4 linked regions of the Homo sapiens genome follow. The protein of the gene in region 1 purifies or fractionates together with the protein of each later gene. This does not show direct contact. Each region holds a gene or a part of one and is shown on either strand. Other genes may lie near its edges.

What was found. Proteins that work in one complex are often made in the same cells at the same time.
Region 2: the proteins of PRSS35 (region 1) and ALDH1L1 purify together in Homo sapiens (co-immunoprecipitation; one large-scale study listed by IntAct). This does not show direct contact.
Region 3: the proteins of PRSS35 (region 1) and LYPLA1 purify together in Homo sapiens (co-immunoprecipitation; one large-scale study listed by IntAct). This does not show direct contact.
Region 4: the proteins of PRSS35 (region 1) and MTFMT purify together in Homo sapiens (affinity purification with mass spectrometry; one large-scale study listed by BioGRID and IntAct). This does not show direct contact.

The regions. Positions count from the first base shown.
Region 1 is NC_000006.12:83,510,544-83,515,705, reverse strand, and holds the start of PRSS35 (inactive serine protease 35 precursor), read right to left. Parts: upstream 3,173-5,162; 5' UTR 3,012-3,172; intron 1-3,011.
Region 2 is NC_000003.12:126,152,669-126,157,060, reverse strand, and holds part of ALDH1L1 (cytosolic 10-formyltetrahydrofolate dehydrogenase), read left to right. Parts: intron 1-1,557; coding exon 1,558-1,659; intron 1,660-2,417; coding exon 2,418-2,507; intron 2,508-3,479; coding exon 3,480-3,617; intron 3,618-4,392. UniProt on the Homo sapiens protein: Cytosolic 10-formyltetrahydrofolate dehydrogenase that catalyzes the NADP(+)-dependent conversion of 10-formyltetrahydrofolate to tetrahydrofolate and carbon dioxide.
Region 3 is NC_000008.11:54,045,449-54,050,421, reverse strand, and holds the end of LYPLA1 (acyl-protein thioesterase 1), read left to right. Parts: exon of another isoform or gene 1-1,168; intron 1,169-2,303; coding exon 2,304-2,357; 3' UTR 2,358-4,055; downstream 4,056-4,973. UniProt on the Homo sapiens protein: Acts as an acyl-protein thioesterase. Hydrolyzes fatty acids from S-acylated cysteine residues in proteins such as trimeric G alpha proteins or HRAS.
Region 4 is NC_000015.10:65,026,422-65,031,524, forward strand, and holds the start of MTFMT (methionyl-tRNA formyltransferase, mitochondrial), read right to left. Parts: upstream 3,219-5,103; 5' UTR 3,193-3,218; coding exon 2,984-3,192; coding exon of another isoform or gene 2,831-2,983; intron 620-2,830; coding exon 410-619; intron 1-409. UniProt on the Homo sapiens protein: Methionyl-tRNA formyltransferase that formylates methionyl-tRNA in mitochondria and is crucial for translation initiation.

The DNA.
Region 1 (5,162 bases):
GTTTGAGAGTAGCCTGGGCAACATAGGGAGACCCTGTCTCTACAAGTGTGGTGGCGCATGCCTGTGGTCCCAGCTACTCTGGGCTGAGTTGGGAGGATCACCTAAGCTGGGAGGTGGACGCTGCAGTGAGCTGTGATTGTGTCACTACACTCCAGCCTGGACAACTAGAATGAGACAGGGCAACCCTGTCTCAAAGCAAACAAACAAAAACAGTAGAAAAGAATGTTTCCTTCTGGGACTTAAAATATAAATGAAAATGTGTTATTTTAAGAAATAATATACAGAAATGCAATTTTAAAACTAAAAACAGAAGATCACGATAAAACTTCATAGTGGTAGGATGCAATATTGCTAGAGGAAAAACAAGAATTAGAACAGGATAGATAAATTTGTCTATTCAACAAATGCATACCACCTGCTAACTCCGCCATGCATTTCGAAGCCTTTATTTTAAAGAATCTCTCTGATAGTCCTTAACTGTTGAGTTGGACTAGAACATTTCTAAGATTTCTTCCAGCTTTAAAGTTCTAGAGTAAACCACAAATGAGAAAACACAAGTAATTTACTCATCAATGCTTCTCAGGAAGGTTCAATTCCTAGTCATCCAGGGAAGAACTTGCCTGTTATCCATGTTGCTACCACTAGATGGCAAAATTAGCCTGGTGATGGCAAATCTAACGCAGGTATTTAAAATGTTTACACTTACTCAGCTGTGAAATAGATTTTATTTTAAAAGCATGTAAGATTCAGCAGGGGCAAAACTTTTAACTGGCTAATAATATACTAAATGGCTGTGACATAGGGAGACATATGAAATTTATTATATTTAGAAAACCCACCTACCTACAGGCCACAGAGCCCATCCTGATGAACTGAGGGCTGATAATGCTGTCTACAGTCAGACAATTTTCTGGCAGATAGTTTTTCAAAAACAGTTGTAGTGCCAGCACACTTCCAGCATGACCTACAGCACTGTTAACTAGTCCCCCAAATGTGCCACAATTTATTTCAATGCTAAGGAAAATCTTGAACCTGCCAAATATTTCACGTTTATCAAATACTTTATAATCCATTACTAAAGGATAAGCTCTCCACTGATTCTAGGCTGAGAATAAATGGCAAGAAAGTTCATTGACAGTGGGCCAATTTCTATTCAAAATATCATACCATAGCACTATTTTCAAGTTTAGTTTCATAAATGGAGACCAAAAAAATGTCTGCTTAAAAAGTTTGGCAGTACTTGAGGGAAAGGAAGATGGTAAAGTTACACAGTTGATTATTTTACAGTAACCCACAACTTCTGTTTCTCATCACAATAAAAAACAAAACCTCCCTTTGTTTGGGGGCTATTTTTCCATGACCTGTACATCTCAATTTGTGCAATCCTATGGATAAATCAAATTTTGGGTGAATGACATTAAAGGAACCCCAAGAGGACTCTTTCATATGCTGCCTTATGAAGTGCACAGCATATAGCTCTAGACTTATCTGTATTTTTCAAGTTGGCCTTTGAGAGCAAAGAATATCTATAAATAGGTATGCTACTTTTCAGGTTTTAAAGCATCTATGGTCACAATGTTTTTAGCTAACCCACATCAGTTTTACCTATACGAAGCTTAACGTTTTTTAGTTATAAAATAATAGCTTGCATACTACTAACTTAACTTTACTGTTTCCTAACCTCTCCATCTCAGATTTCTCATCTGCAAAGTTACCTCAGTGCTAAGGTAAAGTAGCTCTATCCTCCCAAATTCTGAGTCTGATCCTACTGTTAAAATGCAATATGCTTGTTTGATATTTGAGCATTGGGCAGAGGAAAATCATTTACCCAATGGAGAAAATTAACTCACACTAGCAATTGCTTATTTTAACATCTAATGAACACATACTGTATGCCAAGTATATGCTAAACAGTCTCACATTTTAAAACGTGAAAAAGCTTCTTAAAAGCATGCAGTTTTCCCAGCTATCTGGAAGAAAAATGGGGTACAGTATCCACATCTACCACTTCCCTCACTAAAGGAACTCCTCTAATATTTCCTAATAAAAATAAAATTCCATATGATACTTGGCCTCTACCTTCAAGCCTACATGTCTTATTTGGCAGGGATTTTAACATTCTCTCTTCTAAATTATAAACCAGATTCTAAGTATAATTCTCCAGCCAGCAAAATATGACTTTTATAATCCTCTGTGGAGACAAATGTACTTCGGATAAAATAAGAATGAATTTCAGAAGTCAGAAGGGTTAATAAGGGGTGAAAGCCCCCTAGACACAGCAAGCAGCTTCTTTTCAAATCAAGGACAGTGTAAAAATGTCAGAGCAATCAAGCGGGAGTGTTTCTACAACTTTTTAAAAAACCTTTTATTATAGAAAATTTCAAGACTACACAAAAGCACAGAGAAAAGTATTAAGTTGAGAGAAAAGTACAACCCCCATGTGCACATCACCAGCTTCAACTATTGTCAATATTTTGCCAATGTTTCATCCACCATCACCACCCCACACACTTTTTTTTTTCAGCTAGAGTATTTCAAAGCAAGTCAAAAGCTTTTCTACTTCATTTCGCCGCCTCATTTTCTAAACGTTTTCCTATGCTCCTTTTGCTGACCTCCGCAGCCAAGTTGATAAAAGGGTAGAGGGGAGAGGCTAGCTTTCATAGTAACCCCGCCAAAGAGACTTTTCAGGAATGCGTTTCATACCTTTCTCAATGGCATCTGTTAACAATCATAAAAATAAAGAGGGTCCCCTCTGGTACTGCTTAAGCAGAAAGAATTCCATTTATATTCCAATGCAAACATTGTTGTCGTTAATATTAAACTGTGCAGAGGCCGGCACACAGAATTGCCTATGGGAAGGGTGGTTAGTTTCTTTGAGGACTGAAAGAAAGTGTCAAGTTTGATCCCTTTCTTCAAAGTCCTTCAAAGAAGCTCTCCTCGGGTAGGTCCTGCCTTTCTCAGGGAAATTTCTAAGTTCTAAGGTTGTTGGGTTTGGGGAGCTTCATCTTTACCTGCCAGGCTTGTTTGGTCCCCGAGGGCACTGTCAGCTGAGATCAGAGCTCCCGAGGAGGCGGGCGGGGACGCTGCAGCTGGGAGCCTCTCAGCCAGCCTGAGCCGGAGGCCGCCCCGCCAAGGCCGGGCCACAGCACCCAGAGCTCGCCACTGAGACTGCGGAGGGGGAGAGAGCTGCGCCGCACCACGGCCGGGAGATGGGAGGGGAAAGGGGGCGATGACGAGGGGCGGGCGCGGTGGGATGGAGTGGGGGGAGGGGAGGAGGAGGAGGTGGGCAAGAGGAGACGGAGAGGGAGGGCGGAGAGGGGAGTTCCCTGGAGGAACGGGGCGGACCTGGCCGTGTCTCACCCCAGCATTTCTGCCCCCAAGCTGAATTAAGCATTAGGAAAAATTCATGAGTAGGTTCACAGGGGATGCCTGTCCCTGTAATAGTATGCACTCCTTTAACAGTCTCAGGAGTTGTTCAGTTAAGAGTCTCATTCCTCACTGCTTGCTGTTGAGACCCCAGGCATCTAGAAGAACGGAGGGCGTCTCCCCAACCTTATCCCAAGCTAGTCTCCACCGGGGACCTAGCTTCTCTGGATGCACAAGCCTCAGGGTTACCCCGACTTGTACCAGGCGCCCAGGCTGCACACGAGGATGGGGACCTCAGGCTGGGACGCCTGGACCCCCGGGAGCATCCTGCGCTGCCTCCAGGGGGAGCGCGTCAGTTTCCGTCTGCAGGGAAAAGGCTGGTTTTCCTCTTTGGGCGAGTAACCTTTAAGGTCCTTTCCCATCTCAGTCCCACCAGCATTCTAACCTCATCCGTTCTCTCGACCTTTTATTCTCCTTTAGGAGAGGGGTGGGGGCCACATGAGAAAGGAAGCTTCATTTGTTTAACAACAAATTCTAGTGGGTGACAGGTCTGGGGCAAGATGAACTGATACAACGAGAGAATACATAAACAAAAACAAAAACAAAAACAAAAAAACTCGGTCCTGGCCCTAAAGCAGGGAGATCGAGTAAGTGCACAAGTACTTACAACACAAGGTCTTAGCATGTCTTGTAACACTTGGTTCGTTAGTAGGTTATTGCGTATCTCAAGTTCTGTGTACTTTTAATGAGATTATAACATACTTAGCATTGTCCCTCGTTATACTCAACGGACTAGTTCCAGGCCCTCTTCCCCTCCGCCCCCCCATACTAAAATCATCCCATATTCAAGTCCAAGTCCAGCTGTGGGCCCTGGGGAACCCGCGTATAGGAAAAGTCTGCCCTCTGTTTAAGCATTTCTGCCTGAAAATACTGTTTTCTATCCGCTTTTGGGTGAAAAAAAAAATCTGTGTATAAGTGGACCTGTGCAGTTCAAATATGTGTCCAAGGGCCAACTATATATACAATTTCATTGCTGTTTTCTCATTTAGCATTGTTAACATAAGCATTTACCCATATATTAAAATCTATTGGTAATTTTTACCAGTTAGAATTAGTTCTGAAGCTCTCTGTCACCAATTAGATCATAATAGTCATATGCATCTTTGAATCACCACCATCTACCACAGGGCCTGGCATATAGTAGCTGCTGCATTAGACGTGGAACTAAAAAGTTTGCTAGTCAGATGGAGTGTGGAGAAGTCACAGAGAAAGTCCAGAACTCAGAATGGGAATTCCGCCTGACACTAAATAGCTGTGTGCCCTGGGCCTCCGCTTTTTCATCTGTAAATTGAGATGGTTGAGCTGGAGGAGTTCCAAGGCCTGCAGCTCTCAAACATTTTTGGGATTCTAACACTGTATAAATCCAGAAGGATTCACTGTGGACCCAGGTCTGCTTCCTTCACTTTATTCAGCATTCTCCACTAGCATCACAGAAAGCAAACTTCCAGGGCTCTTTCATTTTCATGCCCCCCTTCTTGAGCCTTTGACCCCAAGCCCTTTTGTACCCTATTTCTGGATCTATTCCAGGTTGTCTTATCATTAATTTGACTGTTTTCAAAATTTATCGCTTTACTTCATCTGGTCCTGATGCTTCGTATTTACTATTTCTCTAGTTCTAGGTTTCTGGCTTCTTATTTTTAAAAAATTTTAATTCATTAAATTTTTAGAGACAGGGTTTTTAAATTATCACTCTGTCACCCAGGCTGGAGTGCAGTGGCAGGATCATAGCTGACTGC
Region 2 (4,392 bases), on another chromosome or scaffold:
CAGGGACTGGGTCACACCCTGCTGAATCCAGGAGCTTCAATTATGACATCGTTAGGATTCTATTTCTCTCTCCTTCACTCGTTGATTCTCCTTTTCTCTGTGTGATTTGTTTCATTCTCAGTTTGGCTGCCCTGAATTAGAGGAAAGATAGCCACTATAGCTCAAGGATTCTAATTCTTGATTCCAGGGAAAGAGAAACACTTTTTCTCCTAGAATTCATCAATCACAAATCAGGGGAGATTCTGATTGGCCAGCTTGGGGGTCATGTGATCCTCATGAGCCAATCACCAGCTGGGGTGATGGAGTGCTCTGATAGGCTGTCTCCGTCACATGCTTCCTGCTGGGAAGGCCGTGACCTGTGGTCACATGGCCTGAGCGGCAGGGCGGCTCAGTCACCTGGGCAGCTGGTACTGCTGAGAGGCAGGGTGGCAGGCTATGGGCCGGAGCCCACAGCTGCAGGAGGGGCCCGGGGATCATATGTGAGGGCTGCTTGCCCCTGCCCGAGGACAGGCTGGCAGGGACGGCCACAGGCAGAGGTGCTGTCCAGGCATGCAGCAGGAGGGAAGGAGGCCCTGGGGAGCCCTTGCTGTTTGGGCGCAGCAGGAAGAGCAGCTGCAGTGTCCACTGTCCCCTCGTCCTCCTCAGCTCCTGGCCACTGCCTTTTATTTTTCGGTTGTGTTAAACTTGTCTTCCCCACAGATTGACCAGCTCACAAAAATAGTGAACAAAGTAGAGTTGCTGGAGATTTAGTGGTACAGAGAGGGAGCTTACCTGTGCTTCCCACGGCAAGCAACTCAAATACTCCTTGAAGCTGCACTGTCCAACAAGGCAGCCACTGGTAACATGCAGCTATTAAATCAATTAAAATGAATTATACTGAAAAATTCAGTTCCTCAGTCTCAGCCACATTCTAAGTCCCCTGGCCACCGTGTTGGACCGTGCAGACTTGGAACTCATCCATCACCACAGAGGGCTCCATTGGGCAGCCCTGCCTCAGATGCTCTGACACCCGGTCACTTCCCATTCTTGGCACCTCCCGGTCTCTTCCCTCAGGCTCTTGCTCACGTGGGCCCAGACTCCTTGGCTCTCCTTCTCCCTCTCTGATTCCTTTCCCACCACCTTCCTCTTTCCTGTCACAGAGAAACAACTTCCTGCTTCATCTCAGACCTCCAAACTTCCACCTTCAAGCCCACCACGGGGCTCAGGACCCACTCTCTTTAAAGGCAGAGAAGGCTTAGACAGCAACATGGACATTTGTGTCTGTGTTATACCTGCAGGGCTTTACAGTTTATATAATCATCTAAGATATCAGAAGATGTAAGATCTATGTAATCTAAACCTTTGCCAGGTAGAGAGGACGGGTCTGTGTCCGTTGTGCAATAGAAGTTAGGTTCACGCTGACTCCCTTGTTCATATGGCAGGTGTTTCTTGGGTGACTGCTGTGTACCAGGCAAGTCTGGTCAGTCTGGGGAAGGGTCCAGGCTCAATGTGGGCCCTGGGGCTGGGAAGGAGGCAGGGTCCTATTGCTGGGGATAGCAACCCACTGGATCTCCCCAGGTGCAGGCCGTGAGGCTGATCGCTGAGGGCAAAGCCCCCAGACTCCCTCAGCCTGAGGAAGGAGCCACCTATGAGGGGATTCAGAAGAAGGAGACAGCCAAGGTGAGTGCTGGGTCCCTCCACACCCTCATCCTGCCTGTGAGCAGACTGGGGTTGTAGAGGGCAGCCTGAGGAGGCTGGGGTTCAGCCCAGATGGTGCAGGTTGTAATTCTTTGAGGCCAGAACACAGGGCAGCCCAGGTCAGGGATGCATGAAGAGAGCCGTGGAGGAGGAGGACCCTGGCACCTGGGAGGGTAGCGAACAGGGTCCATTCCAGGTTCTTTCCTGTTCCTCTTTAGGAGGAATGGGCAGACAAAGCCCACAGGGAGATAAGAGTGGGAGTTAGGGGGCAAAACGTCAGCCGTAGTGCGAGCAGTCTTCAAGGCAAGGTGTGAGGGACAGTGCGGGTCTCTGGAGCAATAGCCAGTGGAGGAGCCTCAGAAGCCTGTAGGCTGTGTCTCAGCTCAGGAGTATGGGTTGCTGTGTGGGGACCCACAGGGGCCCTGCCAGTGAAAGGTTGGGCCCTATGGGACGGGCCTGAGTACATTGTGCTGGGGCCTCTGTGTAGGGTCTGGGCCATCTTGACAGCAACAGAACATTATCTTCCCCAAACCATTCTGAAGTCTGCTCAGCCCATGAGAGACTGAGGGTCAGAGAGCACCCAGAACTAGGGGCACCAGCTCAGGGACTCCTGCAAGTGTCTAAGAGGAAGCTGGGGTTACCAGCTGTCTCACAAGAGCTTGGTCCACTGTCCAGATGTCATCAGGGTGGGAGGGGAGTGAGGAGAGACCAGCTGAGCACACACACCTTGCTCCCCACAGATCAACTGGGACCAGCCGGCAGAGGCCATTCACAACTGGATCCGCGGGAACGACAAGGTGCCGGGAGCCTGGACAGAGGCCTGTGAACAGGTGTGTCCCTGCATGGCTGGAATCCAGCCACGTGCATTGGTGTATCCCACTGGCCATTAAACTGTCACACATGTTTGAACTGGTTGGTATAATAAATAGCTACTGCCCTGGCCCCTACTCCCACTGGGTGCCCCCTAAACATCCCAGCCTTTCCCCAGGAGTGAGAGACCTACCCAGCCTGCAGTAGCTAAAGGATAGATGTCCTGCGTAGCTGGAGGCCTCCAGGCCCTTGTAGTGCCCCTGGGGCCCAGCTGTATTGGTGGTGAAATATTTTGAGTCTCACCACTGGGCTTGCGGAGACCCCAGGCCCAGTACTCACTCTGACTTGGCCTCAGGCAGGGTGGAGCAGCACATTCAGGGCCAGGCTGACCGTGGGCAGGCCAGATGCTGAAGATGGGGAGACTTGGGGGTCACAGGCTCTAGTGAGGCATCAGGGGTGGCGGGACTGTGTGTGGTGGACTTTGTGCAAACCTTGAGGGCAGTCTTGTCCCCCACACAGTCTCAGACTCTCCAGACCCCTGACCCCCAGCCGACTGCCCAGACTGTGGCCAGAAGCCTCTCTGCTGTCCTCATCAACGCAGAGCCCTTTGTACTAGCAAATGCATCTTCTGATCAAAGCAACCACTCCTTGGCAGCACCCTGAAGGCAGGTAGCCTCATTCCGTGATGCCTGGAGCACATTCTCCCCCAGTCTGTGCACCTCAGGTCTGAGGCCATGGGCCAAGGAGAAGGGTCTTATGGCAGAGTTGAGGCAGACCTGCCATCAGCTCCCTGAGGCCACTGAGGCTCCTCCAGGTCTTGTTTGTGCCCCAGGAGAAAGGGCCTCAGGGGTCACATGGGCTTTGAGCCGGCTCCCAGGTCTCAGCTACCCCTGGCCCCTCTCCCTCTCCCAGCCCTGCTCAGACCTGCCTGGGCTACTGGCTTCGGGGGCTTCTTCTCACCCACCATCTTCTGATATTTCTCCCCTTGACAGAAACTGACATTTTTCAACTCAACGCTGAACACTTCAGGCCTGGTGCCCGAGGGAGACGCTTTGCCCATCCCAGGAGCCCATCGGCCAGGGGTGGTCACCAAAGCAGGACTCATCCTCTTTGGGAATGATGACAAAATGGTAAGGGCACGGCTGTGGGTCACTTGCCTGCTCAAAGCCACCCATGCTCCTGTCCTTGGACTCAGGCCTCACAGGAAGACCCTAGGCTCCTCTGGAGAAAATGGAAAAAACCAGACCCAGGAAGGAACACTGACCCTGATTTGTCCCTGACCACCCGGCTGGTCCTGAGCACAGGGTGTCCGAGGCAGTTTACCCACTTCTCTGTTCTGGGAAAGCTGGGCTCCCTACCCTTCCTGGCTAGGCACCCATCTCCAGGCTGAGTGCCCTGTGTGGGTGTCAGGCAACCTAGAATCAGAGAGAAGCCCTCCCAGGGAGCCTGGGTTCAGGGCCTCTCTTTGGTCTATCAGAAACACCTCTGGGTGTGGGGTCATTAAGCCTCTGTGCCTCAGCTCCCATCTCTTTGAACGGCGATGCCATGGTAACTTAGCACGTGCAGAGCCTTGGGAGCCATGCCGGCCACCTGCTCTTGTTATTAGCAGACTACAACTCACGGTACCAGCAAACACTGATGGAGCACCTTTTATACCAGAACAATGTATATGCGTTAAATTTAATCTGCCTAACAACACTATGAGATATGTATAAATATTATATCCTTATAGAGGAAAAAAACAGAGATTTAAATAACTTGTCCAGGATCATCCAAGCTAGCCCGTGGCAGAGCTGGGATTCAGACTCTGAAATTCTGGCTCCAAAGCCGTGATGCTGGTCTTGGCCATGGTAGCTTCCTGTTCATATGCACTCTACTACTCCTTCTCACATGAGCAGCCGGGGG
Region 3 (4,973 bases), on another chromosome or scaffold:
AGCAGGAAGCTGTCAGTGTTTTTGGTTGAAGTGAGATGTGATCTGATCTACATTCTAGAGACAGGTGATCCAGCAGGATTTAGAGATTAATTATGTGGGGTGTAGTAACCAAGGAAGTATCAAAAGGGCCTGAGATTTCTAGTTCTGATGCCATCATAAAAAGTAGGTGCAAGAAACAGTTTTAGAGTAAAGGAAGGAGATAATACTGAGTTTAATGTATTGAGATCAATGTGCCCCCACAATATCAAAATAGGATATTGGAAATACTTGTCTGAAGTTCAAGCCTGGAAATGGAGATTTGAAATAATTACTAATATAATTGATCAACGAAGAATTATCTTGAGAAAGCATTATAAGAAAAAAAGCTCAGGGATAGAACTTTGGGGGACACATTACAGTTTAGCCTAATGAGAAAAGGAGTTAGGTGTTGAGAGTATGGGTGGAGAGAATTTCAGAGTGGGAAGGAGATGTGTAATGTGTTCCAGAGAAGGATTAAGGAGAAATAGTTTAGGAAGAAAGTACCCAATATTAAGCCACCTGTGACCTTGGATGTTTGGGTAGATAAAGCCAAAATGCAAAGGATTGTATGAAGTGGATAGGGAAATGAGGAAGCAGAGGCAACATGTATAGACCTTTTAAAAAAGTTTTGGTAAACAGGAAGAAGAGTAGGAAATCTGTTCTTCAGTGGGATCAGAGAAAGACCTATGAGTGGAAGGAGGGAGGAAGAAGATGCAGTAAAGAGAAGATAATTGATAGAGGCATTCTCAGAGGGATCATAGAATAGAATTAAGTCCTGAGATGTATAGTGCTTGCCTTAAAAGAGGAGAAAACCATTTTCAATCAAGATAGAAGAGGACAGGCCGGGTGAGGTGGCGGGCACCTGTGGTTCCAATTACTCTAGAGGCTGAGGCGAGAGGATCACTTGATCTCCGGAGGTTGCTGCTGCAGTGAGCCATGTTGGCACCCTGCACTCCAGCCTGAGTGACAGAGTGAGACCCTAAAAAAAAGAAAGAAAGGATGGATGAATATAAACAGGAGATGGAGAGAGAAGAGAGTGCTTGGGAGCTCATATTAGATGTGCTTATCTTTTCAGTCAAGTAGAAGGTGCGATCACTTGATAGAATGAAGGAGGCCGGAGGCCTGGATAGGTCTGGAGGCTTGAGAAGACCTAGAGTAAAAATTGATTCCTAGTGAGATAGTCATACTGACAGTTTTACAACCACTCAGCCTGGGTTAAATAATTTAGGGACGGAGAAAGAGGTGGTAATATGATTTATCCAGAAAGACAAGGGTGCCTGGGAACCTGAACCTAGGGTGTTCTCCTACTGATATAGAGTATTACAGTGTTGAATCCAGAAAAGAGAGGGCAGGGGAAGTCCTGGAACCCTTAATGTGTGCAAGAGGGACTGAAGGTCTCTAGAGCAGCTGTTTTCTTCATGGGCTTTGTATCACAAATACCTTGGAGCTTCATAAAAGCTCTATAGATGAGTCTACAACAACTCTGGGCTGAATGAGGAGGAGCAGAAAATGAGGAGAAGTAGGATAGTGGGAGGTGATCTCACAGGAAACTCTTTGGGACTTCAGAGTATTGTGAAATAGAACACTTTCATGCTGGGGCTCTTTTCTGAGTGACTAAATTACAAGGCTGAAGGTTAGCTGCATTGCTACTATTTGGCACTGTGAGGCTAAGTAAGGCCTTGAAATATAAGAGCTGATAGCAGGAAGTGAGTTTGAGGGAGGTGAGAAAACTGAGCCAAATGCAAGAGGCTAAGAGGAGAAAGTTTCTTCTATGATAAATCTTTGGTATATTAATGTTCATATCTTCCCAGGAACATCTTAGGTACATGCTCTCTATCAAATGGTTAGTTGTATGTAATTCTTTATGAAAGACACAGCATAGTTAATGCTATGGATTTAGCGCATAATTCAGTTTGAAGAATGGTAGAAGCTCTGCTTTGTCACTCATACTTAGTTGTCAGTAATTGTTCACTTACTGAGACTTCTCAGTGTAGGCACCATCGCTTCTAAACTTCCCTGCCCCCCAGTGTCTTATATTGTTCCAGTATAGGAAGATGCAGAACTAGATACTGGATGGGAGCTGTCATTTCAGTGTACAATAATCATGATAGGAAATGTCCTGAAATTTCTGTTGGAGCCTCATTTCTCTTTTGTCTTATTTAATTGTAGTAAAAATGTGATTTCGCCTTTATGCATACCATAGATTTGATTAGTGGCATTTTAGTGGGAATTTAATTTCTGACTTACATAACTACCTACCTATTAAATTACTTTATTCCAAACAGGAAATGATGGATGTCAAGCAATTCATTGATAAACTCCTACCTCCAATTGATTGACGTCACTAAGAGGCCTTGTGTAGAAGTACACCAGCATCATTGTAGTAGAGTGTAAACCTTTTCCCATGCCCAGTCTTCAAATTTCTAATGTTTTGCAGTGTTAAAATGTTTTGCAAATACATGCCAATAACACAGATCAAATAATATCTCCTCATGAGAAATTTATGATCTTTTAAGTTTCTATACATGTATTCTTATAAGACGACCCAGGATCTACTATATTAGAATAGATGAAGCAGGTAGCTTCTTTTTTCTCAAATGTAATTCAGCAAAATAATACAGTACTGCCACCAGATTTTTTATTACATCATTTGAAAATTAGCAGTATGCTTAATGAAAATTTGTTCAGGTATAAATGAGCAGTTAAGATATAAACAATTTATGCATGCTGTGACTTAGTCTATGGATTTATTCCAAAATTGCTTAGTCACCATGCAGTGTCTGTATTTTTATATATGTGTTCATATATACATAATGATTATAATACATAATAAGAATGAGGTGGTATTACATTATTCCTAATAATAGGGATAATGCTGTTTATTGTCAAGAAAAAGTAAAATCGTTCTCTTCAATTAATGGCCCTTTTATTTTGGGACCAGGCTTTTATTTTCCCTGATATTATTTCTATTTAATACTCTTTTCTCTCAAGAAAAAAAAAAAAGTTTGTTTTTTCTTTATTGTCCTTCATAGCAGGCCAAGTATTGCCTCTCTGCAATAGACAGCTACTGTCAATACATGCTGTAATTTGACATTCTGGGTCACAGATATAAGGTATTTAAAATCTATTTATGCTTTATAGAGAAACCAGACATTAAAACTTCATGCACTACTTATTTCGAATTACTGTACCTTATCCAAATTTACACCTAGCTATTAGGATCTTCAACCCAGGTAACAGGAATAATTCTGTGGTTTCATTTTTCTGTAAACAACTGAAAGAATAATTAGATCATATTCTAGTATGTTCTGAAATATCTTTAAGACTGATCTTAAAAACTAACTTCTAAGATGATTTCATCTTCTCATAGTATAGAGTTTACTTTGTACACGTTTGAAACCAACTACTGTAGAAGATGAGGAATCTATTGTAATTTTTTGCTTTATTTTCATCTGCCAGTGGACTTATTTGAAATTTTCACTTTAGTCAAATTATTTTTTGTATTAGTTTTTGATGCAGACATAAAAATAGCAATCATTTTAAATTGTCAAAATTTCCAGATTACTGGTAAAAATTATTTGAAAACAAACTTATGGGTAATAAAGGCTAGTCAGAACCCTATACCATAAAGTGTAGTTACCATACAGATTAATATGTAGCAAAAATGTATGCTTGATATTTCTCAACTGTGTTAATTTTTCTGCTGTATTCCAGCTGACCAAAACAATATTAAGAATGCATCTTTATAAATGGGTGCTAATTGATAATGGAAATAATTTAGTAATGGACTATACAGGATGTTAATAATGAAGCCATATGTTTATGTCTGGATTTAAAAATTTTAAACAATCATTTACTATGTCATTTTTCTTTACCTTGAAGAACATAAACTGTTATTTCACTTCTACAAATCAGCAAGATATTATTTATGGCAAGAAATATTCCATTGAAATATTGTGCTGTAACATGGGAAAGTGTAAATGTTTTTCATGGTTTCTATCAATGTGAAATAAAATTTAATTCTGACTTTTCTGTGACTTTGAGTATTTTAATATTTGGAATGTTAACATTTGGAATGAATGTCTATAATGCAATGGAGGAAAATAACAATGTACTTAAAAGAATATATATTCAGAGAGAGAAATTTTGATGATGGTGTGGTTGACTTAGAATGGAACCAGGCATAAGAAATAATCTCATGTTATTCAGTTTTAATTGGCTAAAAAAAAATTTCCCAAATTTGGTTTTCAATGTTTCTACCTATTTAAGAAGTTTTATTTGGTGTTTATCTTTTGTCTTTTTCTTAACTCTTTTTAAATTTTATTTTATTTTATTTTATTTTTGAGACAGAGTCCCATTCTGTCACCCAGGCTGGGGTGCAGTGGTGCGATCTCGGCTCACTGCAACCTCTGCCTCCCAGGTTCAAGTGATTCTCCTGCCTCAGCCTCCTAAGTAGCTGGGATTACAGGAGCCCACCACCATGCCCAGCTAATTTTTGTATTTTTAGTAGAGACAGGGTTTTGCCACGTTGGCCAAGCTGGTCTCCAACTCCTGACCTCAGGTGATCCACTCGCTTCAGCCTCCCAAAGTGCTGGGATTATAGGCGTGAGCCACTGTGCCCGGTCTTTTTCTTTAATGTAGTATTCACTGGGTTTTTTAAATTAGTGTCATAAGTCAGTTATCCAAGTAGTTTTTCTCCTTTATTTCAACATTGACTTCTGACTTTTCCGAATATAGGAATTCCTTCTGTCCTGTTAAGCAGTCCTTCGCTTTCTGCTTTTGGATACTTAAGTGACCACCTCACTTTTTTGTGATGCAGCTTGTTCAATTTTTGGATAGTTCTCGTGGTAAGAAAATTCTGGACCAAATATGTTGTCTCTAACTTCAGTTCGTTTTATAAAATGTTTATCTTTCACATCAGCACTGTATTTCATATGATAATCTTTAGTTCATGA
Region 4 (5,103 bases), on another chromosome or scaffold:
GCTTTTGGTGGTCTATACCCTCTTTTCTTGTCTATACCTGTGACTGGAGGCCTAGCAGCCTGGTATGAATCAACTCTGTTACCAGAGAAAGGGAACATCTTAAGTTACTGGATTCAAATTTATAAGCCTGTCTTTAGAAAGATGTTATTTCCTATTGTGTTCCAGACTGTGTTTGCAGCATTCCTTGGGTTTAAACAATATAAACTACTTCTAAAGGCCCTTCAGTTACCTGAACCTGGCAGAGAAATTCATTGACTTTAAGCAAACATGTACAGAAAAATAAAATGGTAAAAATAAAAAAAGAAAATATTACAGAAAGCATAGAGTTCAAATTATCACATTTTATATACAAGGTCCATTTATAAAGACCAAGGTTTCTATACTGTATTTCCTTACAAATAAAACTTACTAGGGAAATTTAAGAATAAGAGCCTCATTCAAAAGTCGGCCAAACGAAGCCACTACTCCAACATCATATTCTCCAGATCCCACATCCGGCCACTCATATACGGGAAGCTGAGACTGCACAGCATATTGCTTCACTGGCAGTCCTTTTGGTGATGGGGAAGGCATTGTGACCACCTCCAGTTTGTCGATTAACTCTTCTTCTTTGTTTTCCCTAAATTAGATAGGAAGAAAAATGTGACAGTGTTAAGGCAATGACTCAAAGCTAAAACTACTTCACATATCGCTAAGTATGTTTATGATTAATCTCATGAAGCATTTAGGGCTAAATGATTAAAACTAGTGTGAGAGACTGAGTTTTCATTTTTTCTTTTTCTTTTTTTTTTTTTGAGCTGGAGTCTCACTCTGTCACCCAGGCTGGAGTGCAGTGGAGCGATCTCAGCTCACTGCAACCTCTGCCCCCTAGGTTCAAGCGATTATCCTGCCTCAGTCTCCCGAATAGCTGGGATTACAGGCATGCACCACCACACCCAGCTAATTTTTGTGTTTTTTAGTGGAGGCAGGGTTTCCCCATGTTGGCCAGGCTGGTCTCCAACTCCTGACCTCAAGTGATCCGTCCGCCTCCACCTCCCAAAGTGCTGGGATTACAGGCGTGAACACCGTGCCCAGCCTCAGTTTTCATTTTTTATTTAATTTTAATTATTTAAAATGTAAAGAGTGACACGTGGCTAGTGGCTACTGTTTGAACAGTATCATTCTAGGGATTTCCTGTGCATACAGAAACATATACAGTATGGATACTTTACACAACTGGGATATTACATACTGCTTTGCATTTTTTTTCCTTTTAACAATGCTATATATGCTATTATGTGTCTTTTTGAAAAATGGGTTAAATATACGTATATTTGTATATTCACTGAACATTTCTAGAAGGAACTGAAAACAGTGGCTGTCTCTGGATAAAGGAACTGGGAACTGCTAAACAGAGGTGGAAGGAAGTAACTTTTCACTGTATATCCTTTGAATCCATGGAACTTTTTTACCATAACCATGATGCCATTCAAACACTACTTTTTAAAAAACAAACAAAAATACATAACATGGCTATCATTCCATGGCAGTACCTGTAGCACTACCTCATCCTTTCTACCTGCTGCATAGCATTCTAGTACCCAGGGGGGTACATTTATTAAACAGGTATTGTATGTACACGTTGAGGAGTTATGAGGAGTATGTCCTGGGGCACTATAAAGAAAGCACAGGAGTAATGGAGCTGCCAAGTGAAGCATCATCAGAAGTATCAGGATAGGCCAGGAATGATGGCTCAGGCCTGTAATCTCAGCACTTTGGGAGGCCAAGGTGAGAGGATCACTTGATCCCAGGAGTTTGAGATAAGCCTGGGCAACATGGTGAAAACCCGCCTCTACAAAAAATTTAAAAATCAGGCGTGGTGGTGCACGCCCGTAGTCCTAGCTACTCTGGAAGCTGAGATGGGATGATTGCTTGATCTTTGAGGTCGAGGCTGCAGTGAGCTATGAGCCGGCCACTGCACTCCAGCCTGGGGGACAGCGCGAGACCTCGCCTCAGAAACAAACAAAAAAAGTGTTGGTATAAATGTATAAATGCAGTGAGAGACGCATGTGACAACAGCAGCCCATGAAGGGTGTGCAAAGGGAACATGGGGTTTCCTTCCGGGTGTGTGCACAGAGGGGTGTGTGGAGGAAGGAAAACCACACAGGGGATTGACGAAGGATTCAATACATGAGGGGCTGCTGTGAAGTATCTGTAGGGAAAAGGAGATGGAGATGACCAAAAAAAGTGGAAGGAGGACTGCGTCAGAAAAAAACAGAATGGGGAAATAAAAAACATTAATTGGGAAAAAGAGGCAGAGAAGTATATACGGTATTGCCACCACATACCATGGACTCTCAGGACTGGTTGGATTTCAAATAATTTTCTTTCCCAGTAAACAAAACTTGTTAAATATTATGAATACTAAATGTATACCTAACAGTTCTGATTTATAAATTTATTCTTTTGAAAACAGGTCGTTTTTGGACTATGTCCTTGTATACAAGGAGCACAGGGGGAGCAAAAGAGCGAGACACGGGTGTGCCGAAGGATGGGGGTCAGGAGGAACTGCAAAGCAGGGAACTTTGAAGTGGGACCTGGTTTTAGTCCGAACCACCTCGGCTGATGACCTTGGGCAATCGCATAACCTCTCTGAGCCACGGATTCCCCACACTCAAAACGGGCAGGGAGGCCGTGGGACTGGCCCGGGGGATGCAGGCAGAGCGCCCAGCCCCAGCTCGGCACAGCGTGGGTGGCAGGGCGCCTGGAGAACCCACAGAGGCGGCGGGGAGTGAGGGGCGCAGACCGCAGGTACTAGGCGCCCAAAGGCTGACCGGCGGGAATGGCGCACCTTCTGGGAGCCAGAAGACGCCGAGATCTGGGCCCACACCGCTCTGCCGCCCATGCTTTCCGCAACCAGAAGTCCAAAACCCTCGGGGCCGGCCGCCCGGGCGCGGCCTGGAGGCCTTCAGCGGCCGGGTCCCCGGATCCCTGGCCCGGGTACCTGGCGGCGTGCAGCGCCCGCAGCGCCTCGCGGGCGAACTGGTCCGTGCCGAAGAAGAGCACCCGCCAGGGAGGCTTCTCGCGGACTCTGGAGTCCCGGCAGTCCTCCCAGCCGAGTCGGGCCAGTGCTCGCCACTGGGGACTCGGCCTCCCACGCCTGGCGCCATGAGCCAGCGGAGGACCCCAACAGCGCCGCACCAACACCCTCATCGCCTCGGCCGCCGGCGGCCGGCCCTGCGCAGGCGCATCGGGGCGGGGACAAGGGTGCAGCCTGGGGAGGGCGGGGCTTGCCTGCTTGGAGGCGGGGTCTGGTTGGAGTTGGTGAACGAATTTGCCCGCTACAGCGGCCCTAGATTTTTGTTCTGTTTATTTGCACTATGTAGCCAATCCTCCAGAATAAGTCTTTCTTTTCTTTTTAAAATCGCTTTATTTATTTATTTATTTATTTATTTATTTATTTCAGAAAGGGTCTTGCTCTGTCGCGCAGGCTGGAGTGCTGTGGCGCGATCTCTGCTTACTGCAACCTCACTGCTCCTGGGCTCAAGGGATCCTCCCACCTCAGCCTCCGGAGTAGCTGGGGTACAGGCACACATCACCATGCTGGGCTGATTTTTTGTAGAGAGAGTATCTCACTATGTTGCCCAGGTCTCAAGCAATCCTCCTGCCTTGGCCTCCCCAAGTGCTGGGGTTACAGGCGTGAGCCACTGCGCCGGCCCAGGATAAGTCTTTTGGTAACAAATCGTGCATGTTTTCAGACAATGAAACCTCATGTATATAGTGCATGTCATTTCCTCAACCATTATAACCAATATTTGCTGAGTACTTCACTCCGTGCCACGTTTTTGCTAAGCATTTTATATTCATTATTCTGGTTAATCATCAGATCAACCTTAGGAGGTAGATACTATTACAAATATGTTACTGAAGAGAAACTGAAGCTCCGTGAAATTAAGGACTTACCAGTGTATAAGGTCCACACAGCTAGTAAAGGACAGAGCAGAGGTGGGACTCTTGTAATTCCAACGCTTGTAATCCTAGCCGTTGGGCCTTCTCAGCGATCCTATGTATTAGGCAAGTCAATTACCCACATTTTGCACCTGAGGAAACTGAGCCTTAGTTACTTGTCTGCAGTTACTTTCTTGAATCGAAGGCTCCATCTTTACTCCTCCCCTGTGGGTTCCTTTGCACACAGAAGGATACCATAGAGGTGATTCCTAGGGAAATGGACAGGGAACCTTATCCCCAGAAGACCTCCGAGGACCGTTAGTGCTTAGATTCTGTATCCCCAAAGCCTCCTTGAGTGGAGTCAGACATCCATGAAACAGGATCTGAGCAGAGACTGAAACCGAATTTTGTTCTAATCTTATTCTCACCACCATTTTTTTTTTTTTTTTTTTTTTTTTTGAGATGGAGTCTCGCTCTGTTTTTCAGGCTGGAGGGCAGTGGCGGGCGATCTTGGCTCACTGCAACCGCTGCTTCCCAGGTTCAGGCGATTCTCCTGCCTCAGCCTCCCAAGTAGCTGGGACATGCGCCACTACACCTAGCTAATTTTTGTATTTTTAGTAGAGATGGGATTCACTATGTTGACCAGGCTGGTCTTGAACTCCTGACCTCAGGTGATCTGCCTGCCTTGGCCCCCCAAAGTGCTAGGATTACAGGCATGAGCCACTGCGCCCTGCCGTCTCACCACCTTTTCCCATCACACAGTCTTAAACCCAGTGACCCTGGACCAGTCCTTTTTCCTAAATTATGAGCTCTGCACATCCCTGCTCCTGTGCCTTTGCTCATGCTCCCTTCCTAGACTGCCTTCCCACATCTCTTCATCTCTAAATGGTATCCATTCTTCAACACGAAGTTCAGACATTCGCCCTGAAGCTTCAAGCTCTTGCCTCCTTAGATTTCTTGTCTTTCTCCATGTGCCCCTGTTTTTTTTTGTTGTTGCTGTTGTTTTTGTTTTTGTTTTTGAGACAGAGTCTCACTCTGTCACCCAGGCTGGAGTGCAGTGGTGTGATCTTGGCTCACTGCACCCTCCACCTCCCCTGTGCAAGCGATTCTGCTGCCTCAGCCTCCTGAGTAGCTGTGATTACAGGCGCCTGCCACCACGTCTGGCTAATTTTTTGT